2 linked regions of the Homo sapiens genome follow. The protein of the gene in region 1 purifies or fractionates together with the protein of each later gene. This does not show direct contact. Each region holds a gene or a part of one and is shown on either strand. Other genes may lie near its edges. The genes, in order: NR1D2 and SATB2.

Region 1 (3,821 bases):
TGGACTTAACAAGTTTCTGCAGTGTTAGACACCTCCTGAAAGCCTAGCCTAGCATTTACTGTATTCGATACAGAATAAGAAGGGCAAATAGAATGTGATTTCGTTTTTCGAGAGACTGTAGAATATTTTGGGGATATATCAGACATTTCTTATGTGCCACCTTAGCTCTTCCTGGTTTCACCTTGCTTCAGGATCCTTGGCTACTTTTCTGTCCCGCTTCTCTTGCAACACTGTATCCTGCTTGGGCTTGGGGTAGTCTCTACTGTATAACTTAACAGATGTGCCTCTCCTGGTCCTTAGTTAGGTGTCTTTCACCTTCTGTCTGCCCCAGGGCATCCCTTTTGCTGCCAAGGTGTGAGATGCCTTGGGACCTAATTAAGGACAACTCTGAGATTGGGGTGGTGAGAGGAAGTTGATGTTTGGTGGGCCAAATCTTTGAACCTTTTATGGATGGAAGAAGTGAGCCAGGGCTATATTTTCACTTCTCCCTGGATTTATTATAACGGAGGGAGTGAGATAACTAAGTAATATAATTGTTAACCGATTTAACTTGGATGTCAATTATAACATGGTGCTTAGAACACTTACTGTGATAGCTTTCTTTGTGGATAGTCTCTTTGGGTGTTGGTTTCTTGAAGCAGTTCAGTTAGACTTCATCTGCTTCCTTTGCCTTGGCTGCATTTGATGTGTTGATGTTTCGAAGTGTTGCTGCATTGGAATTTTGCTCTTTTTACTTAAGGCATAGAGGCCATGTGTTATACTTGGCAGCCTAAAGAGATTCTTTAATGCCTTTGGCCAGGGCCCAGTTTTAAATTTACTGGCACTATTTCTTGCTCTAATTTTATATTGCATTTCAGAATCTTTGTTAATAGAGTGGCAGAGTATCTTTGCCATGAGTGGCTAGAATTTCTTTTGATGTTCTTCTTGGAGTATTTATTGCTTTGGTAGAGAATCTGTCTTAAGAAAGTGGTTTTGGGACCGGGTGCAGTGGCTCATGCTTGTAATCCCAGCACTTTGGGAGGCCGAGGCAGGCCGATCACTTGAGTCCAGGAGTTCGAGACCAGCCTAGGCAACATGGTGAAACCCTGTCTCTACAAAAAATACAAAAATTAGCTGGGTGTGGTGGTATGTATTTGTATTCTCAGCTATTCAGGAGGCTGAGGTGGAAAGGATCACTTGAGCCGGGGAGGTTCAGGTTGCAGTGAGCTGTGATTGCATCTCCGGCCTGGGCAACAGAGCAAGACCCTGTCTCAATAAATAAATAAATAAATAGGCCGGGCGCTGTGGCTCATGCCTGTAATTCTAGCACTTTGGGAAGCCGAGATGGGTGGATCACCTAAGGTCACGAGTTTGAGACCAGCCTGGTCAACATGGTGAAACCCCATCTCTACTAAAAATAAAATCAGCTGGGCGTGGTGGCGTGTGCCTGTAATCCCAGCTAGTTGGGAGGCTGAGGCAGGAGAATCGCTTGAACCCAGGAGGCAGAGGTTGCAGTGAGCTGAGATCGTGCCACTGCACTCCAGCCTGGGTGACAAGAAGAAAACTCCATCTCAAAAAATAAAATCTGGCATGGTGGCTCACACCTGTAATCCCAGCACTTTGGGAGGCTGAAGCGGGTGGATCACCTGAGGTCAGGAGTTTGAGACCAGCCTTGCTAACATGGTGAAACCCTGCTTCTACTAAAAATAGCAAAAATTAGTTGGGCGTGGTGGCGCACACCTGTAATCCCAGCTACTTGGGAGGCCGAGGCAGGAGAAATGCTTGAACCCGGGAGGCGGAGGTTGCAGTGAGCCAAGATCATGCCATTGCACTCCAGCTCGGGCCACAAGAACGAAACTCCATGTCAAAAATAGAATAGAATAGAATATAGAATATAGAATAGAATAGAATAGAGTGGTTTTGAGTAAAAGTATACCCTGTTTTTCTTTTATAACTTTCTTTTATATGTGGGATGATTCATAACTGACTTGATTGAATACTAAGTTATTTTTTTATTATTGCTGTTAGACTTCTCCAAATACATTTCTTTTTCTTTTTCCAGGTTTTAATGGTACGGTTCGCATCATTATTTGATGCAAAGGAACGTACTGTCACCTTTTTAAGTGGAAAGAAATATAGTGTGGATGATTTACACTCAATGGGAGCAGGGGATCTGCTAAACTCTATGTTTGAATTTAGTGAGAAGCTAAATGCCCTCCAACTTAGTGATGAAGAGATGAGTTTGTTTACAGCTGTTGTCCTGGTATCTGCAGGTAAGCAAGCTGGTTCAAAATTGTGCCACACCTAGCATATAGTGACCAACTGGGGAGAAGATGGCAGTTAACAGGGTTCCAGAAAGTTATATAGAGGGAATAAGGCCTTAAGGAAGATGCTAAATTGTATGACCCTGTTATTTTTGTGTAACTAATTTTTTCGTTATAACAATATATGTCAAAGTACTATAGGAATAAAGTAATACTTACATCTAGGCCTTGTGTTTACCACTGTTAGTCTTTAGCTTTTTGTTCATAATTTTTCTATGAGTCTAAATCTTTATTTCATGAATTTGTTAGAACATTATGTATCTCCAGGTAGGTAGTTGTAATATGAATTTCAGTTTCCATTCAAATACAATGTGGGTTACTTGAAAACATTAAAAGTATCAAGAGGTATTAGTGTGGTTTGTTGCAGAGAAATGTGAATTAGTTGTAGGCTTTAGTCCAGTTCTGCCATTGAATTATGTGGGTAACTTGGGTAAGTAACTTTACTCTTTTGGGTCTTGGATTCCTTCCTCATCCTGTCAAAGGAAGGGGTTGTACCATGTGAGCCTAGTGTGGTGTCTGGCATAGAAGAGCTACTCAGTCACTGTTTGAATGAGTGAGCAAGATTTTTGAGTTTCTAATGTTTATTTATATGAGTCATTTATGATGTTTCCCAATGCCCCTGCCATCTTGCATTAATATTACAGTTATTTCTGACAGTACCCATTAAGGCAGAGATTGTTACTCCCAATAACAAATGGAAATTGAGGTACTTTCCTGGGTATGTCTAAGTAAGTGCCAGCTATTTTTAGGCATCATTTTATTGTATAACATTTGGGAATTTTTTAGTATTTGGTTATGACTTTGTTTCCCATTTGCTTCCTACTGTGTAAAGGGCACTGTGCTAGGCATTGTGAGAGTTATAAGTTACGGCCTCTGATTATGTAGCTAAACCATAAATTAGTAGCTCTTGAAAGAGAACAAGTTCTTGGCCAGGCGCCAGGGGTGCACGCCTGTAATCCCAGCACTTTGGGAGGCTGAGGTGGGTGGATCACCTGAGGTCAGGAATTTGAGACCAGCCTGGCCAACATGGTGAAACCCCCTTCTCTACTAAAAATACAAAAATTAGCCGGGCATGGTGGCACGTGCCTGTAGTCCCAGCTACTCAGGAGGCTGAAGCAGGAGAATCGCTTGAACCTGGGAGGCAGAGGTGGCCGTGAGCCGAGATCACACCAGCTTGCATTCCAGCTTGGGTGACAGAGCGAGACTCCGTGTTAAAAAACAAAAACAAAAACAACAAAAAAAAAACAAGTTATTTGTATAATTTTGAGGACCTGTACCTCAGTGGAATAAAGACTTGCCATTTGGTAACATAATTTGGCTACCTTTTCTGACCAGCTCTACCTGGATAACTAAAAATGTGTATATGACGTGGGAGTAGTATGAAAGGAATATGTCAATAAGGGATATCTGTTTTATAGCTAATTTATAATGCCTCTTGCATTTTACCTATCATTTGCAGAATCTCTTGATAAGTAATTAGTATTGGTTTGAGTTGACATCAGATTAATCGATTATTTT
Region 2 (3,821 bases), on another chromosome or scaffold:
ATTTTAAAAAATTACAGATAATTGAATTTTTAATGGGAAAGTCCCAACATAGCAAGAAAATTCTTACAACAGCACCTGGCATAAATTGGAGATTTTGGAGGCAGTGTGTAGTGCAGTGTCCTGAGCCCATGTTTTTGAGCCTGAAAGACTTGCGTTCAGATCATGGTTCCTTCACTGGCTGCTGGGTGTCCTAGGTTAAGATCCTCTTTTATTTCAGTTTCTTCATCTGTAAGATGAAAATAATAATATCTAACTCATTGGAATCTTAAAAGAATTAAATGTGAAAACAAATGTTAAAATGCTTTCTGGAGTACCTGGCCCATAAAAAGCACGCCATAAATTATAGTAATTATTGCTTTGCGGTAATTAGAAAATAGTATGAGAGAAGGAGGTAGAAGAAAAATGGCAGAAGTTACTGAGCACTGTTAGGAAGCAAAGCCTTTATGGAAACGTAGGGCCTTAAGTTCTGCCGCTAGACACCATTTGTCACAGAGTCCACACTGCCTGTTACATCTTTCTCTGGACCTGCATACTGCTGGATCCAGTAGAGAACAGCTCAGGGCATCCGCACAGGGAAACTTGTGATTTGGAGATAACTCTGTTGGTTTGAGATTCTAGGGTGAATGGGGACAAAGAGAAAAAACCCAGGTTAGGCCAATTCGGCTGGTAGTGCACAAGGATCAAGGATGTCTTTTCCTGAAATCTTGCTGCCAGAGGTTCTAAGAAAATGTCTCAGCCCTCTCTTATTAGACACCAGCAATGCATTCTAGGGCTCACACCAAGTAAATGTTATGACCGTCTTTTGGATTAAGTAGATTCAGACATTTTAGGGTTATCCTAACCCCAAGAAGTACAGACTTCTATATTGTCCTTCATTTGTCTCTGAAGCTGATGGGAAATCATTCAATTAAAACGAGCACTGCAGAATACATAAAACCGCAATATGAGTTTAAGAAAATGAAAACGGCACATCAAAGGCATTGTGAAGCCTAGTTTTATGAAATGAAATTTTGTTTCATTTCCACTGATTTCCTAGGTGAAATTAGGTGACTGTCTGGGTAGCATAATGATGATAATGATGGGAAACCATACATACTCGAATGACATATGTAAAGCTTTAATAAAGAATAAGAGAGACTTGGGAGTGCATTAAATTGAGTAATAATTTATTATTTAGAGACCTCTACCCATTTACTTATTTTTTTTCTGGAAGAATTGGCTCTTATTCCAAGGTGTGCCATTTTTAGAAAGAAAAGGTTAACTGTGTGTGTGTTCTGCATGTTTGTTTTGTAGTTAGATGGTTGCTTATAGTTTGGTGTCTAGGAGAGCCATCCTACCTGTGAACCTTCGTCTGGGATGCTGTGAGAGAACAGGGTTGACAGGATTCTGCATGTCCTATAGGAATGCACTGCAATTATTTCCAATCACAATTAACCTGATTAGAATAATGGACAGGAAGTGTCCCTCTGTAGCTAATGCAGTTTGGCATCAGCTGACTGAAATCCTTTGATAATTTCTGCACAGATGGCTGGGCTGAATGCAGCACTTTTTAAATTATTATTTTCATGGTCTCTTGGTAGGCCAAAACCTCGACACCGACAACAGACCTCCCTATTAAGGTGGACGGCGCCAACATCAACATCACAGCTGCCATTTATGACGAGATCCAACAGGAGATGAAAAGGGCCAAGGTGTCTCAAGCCCTGTTTGCCAAAGTGGCTGCAAATAAAAGTCAGGTGAGTGGTTTTTAAAAAAGCAAAATCGAGGGCTGGAATTAGATCCTTCTCCTTCCTCCACCAATAAAAATACATCTGTTCCTATAATAATAATAACAGTAATAACCCCCAAGAAACCTGTCATGTTCTGCCTTTTACTCTAGTTTGCTTTTATTCCCATTGGAGTTCAAAATAGAGATGAAGCCAAAACTTGACCTTTTTTCTTTTAAAGATTAAAAAAAATTAGCCTCGAATGATTTCTCTCCTTATTCTAAACACTGCAATGTACCCTTTTGTTTCTCTCCCTTTATATATGTGTGTGTGTGTGTGTGTGTGTGTGTGTGTGTATGAACAAAACTTAGAATGTATATAACAGCACCTTTCTGAGACCAAGTTTTAGCCAAGTCTCATCACCTTTCCTGTTCCCACAAGGGGAATGTCCAACTCTGTTATAATAACCACTTTTCCCCAGCCCCAGAGACACCTTTTGATGTCAGGTGTTTCTTTTATGTACAGAATACAGTTGATTTTTTCAGGAGAAAACACACGTGGGGGGAGTGCAGAGTAAGTGCTAAAATCTTTTAACAGAAAAACACAGAAGCTTATCCAGTAAAATTTTTCAGAGTTCTGGGATTGTGGAGAATGTAATGCTCTGGGGAAAAGAGCAGACAGATGCTTAGGTTTTTTATTTCTGAAAGCAGCAACAGTTGATGGGATCTACTATCTGCTTCAATTCTTCATTTAAAGGGACAACTTCTGCCCAAACCTAGAATCCTAGGTTTGAGGTGCATGCTCACTTATGTATACCTAGGGCGAACACCTAATGCAGAGTGGAGGAAATAAAAGTTAGTTAAAGCATAATTTTGAGAGTCCTTTGATTCTGAGCTTGATTTCCTCTGTGTCCTTATATGACAAATGTTTTCATCCCTACATATGTAAATAATCAAATGGTTGATCATCTCCCTAACAAATCTTCTGTTGTGTGCTATAAAGAAAGGAAGTGACTGAGTATTGTATTTCTATTAAGCAAGAAGGTTTTCAATAAAAATTAAATTTTTAAAACTGAAAAACTTCAAACTGTAGTTAAATGTTATATTTAGATTAATTATAGAGTACAGGGTTAGCCTTCTTTACCTGCAGTTTTAACCTGATATAGGTTATTTTTAGATGTTGATAAAAGGAGGGGAGTAGAATATCAAGGAACTTGGAAAGGGATTGAAATGTTTGTTTCCCTTTTCAATTTCAGTGTAGTAAGTTTTCCAGATTACTCTGACTTTCTCTCTTCAATGAAATCAGTGAAATACAGTTTGCTAAGACATAATGTCCAACCATAGTATGAAATACATGAAAAGAAAATACCATAGAGCCTTCTTAAACTGTTAAATGCATAAAATCCCATGTACCACATGGCAAAATATAATGAGAGTTGGAGCTGTTAAACGAATAAAGCTGTTAAATGCATAATGCCACTTGGCAAAACTACTGTGCATTTAATGGTTTTCCACTGTGTAATAAAGGACATATGTGGTAAATGTGCAGTGAGTATAAAAGCTGCACAATTGATTTTGCAAACCTGCCCCTTAGTTGTGACTTGATGTAAATATCAAAGTTTCACACAGTCCTTCTTTTATAAGCAGCTTTCAAGAAAAACTGAAGACCACAGTCTGAGAACTTGATTCCAAAAGCCTGTAATCTTCCTGTTGATTTAGCAGTATGGCTTTTGGAAATAGTGATGCCTCCAGCCTCCTAAAATAATTCAGGTAGCTGATTGAAAGCTGCTTTTGCCAACTGGCAGAAGCTTAGCTCTCCAAATTTTTGATGTCTCCTGAAGAAATCAGTAGCCCTGATTTCGTAGAATTTGGAGAAGAACATAGTTCTGGGAATTAATATGCTGAAGGTAAGATTGAGCTTAAGTGAGGATAAGATGCTTTGAGGTTGTTCCTTTTTCACTGGGACAATGATCTCATTTTCATCTATGAGTGGGGAACCTTATTGTAAATAGCTGACTAGATAGGCAATTCAGGCACTATGTTTATTATGTTTTTTTTTTAAAAATGATACTGCCAAACAAAATGAATTTAATTGGCAGTTTCAAAGGCAATTTAA

What was found.
Region 2: the proteins of NR1D2 (region 1) and SATB2 purify together in Homo sapiens (affinity purification with mass spectrometry; 2 studies listed by BioGRID and IntAct, with this or other methods). This does not show direct contact.

Annotation. Positions count from the first base shown.
Region 1 is NC_000003.12:23,965,772-23,969,592, forward strand, and holds part of NR1D2 (nuclear receptor subfamily 1 group D member 2), read left to right. Parts: intron 1-2,041; coding exon 2,042-2,252; intron 2,253-3,821. UniProt on the Homo sapiens protein: Transcriptional repressor which coordinates circadian rhythm and metabolic pathways in a heme-dependent manner.
Region 2 is NC_000002.12:199,321,718-199,325,538, reverse strand, and holds part of SATB2 (DNA-binding protein SATB2), read left to right. Parts: intron 1-1,580; coding exon 1,581-1,736; intron 1,737-3,821. UniProt on the Homo sapiens protein: Binds to DNA, at nuclear matrix- or scaffold-associated regions. Thought to recognize the sugar-phosphate structure of double-stranded DNA.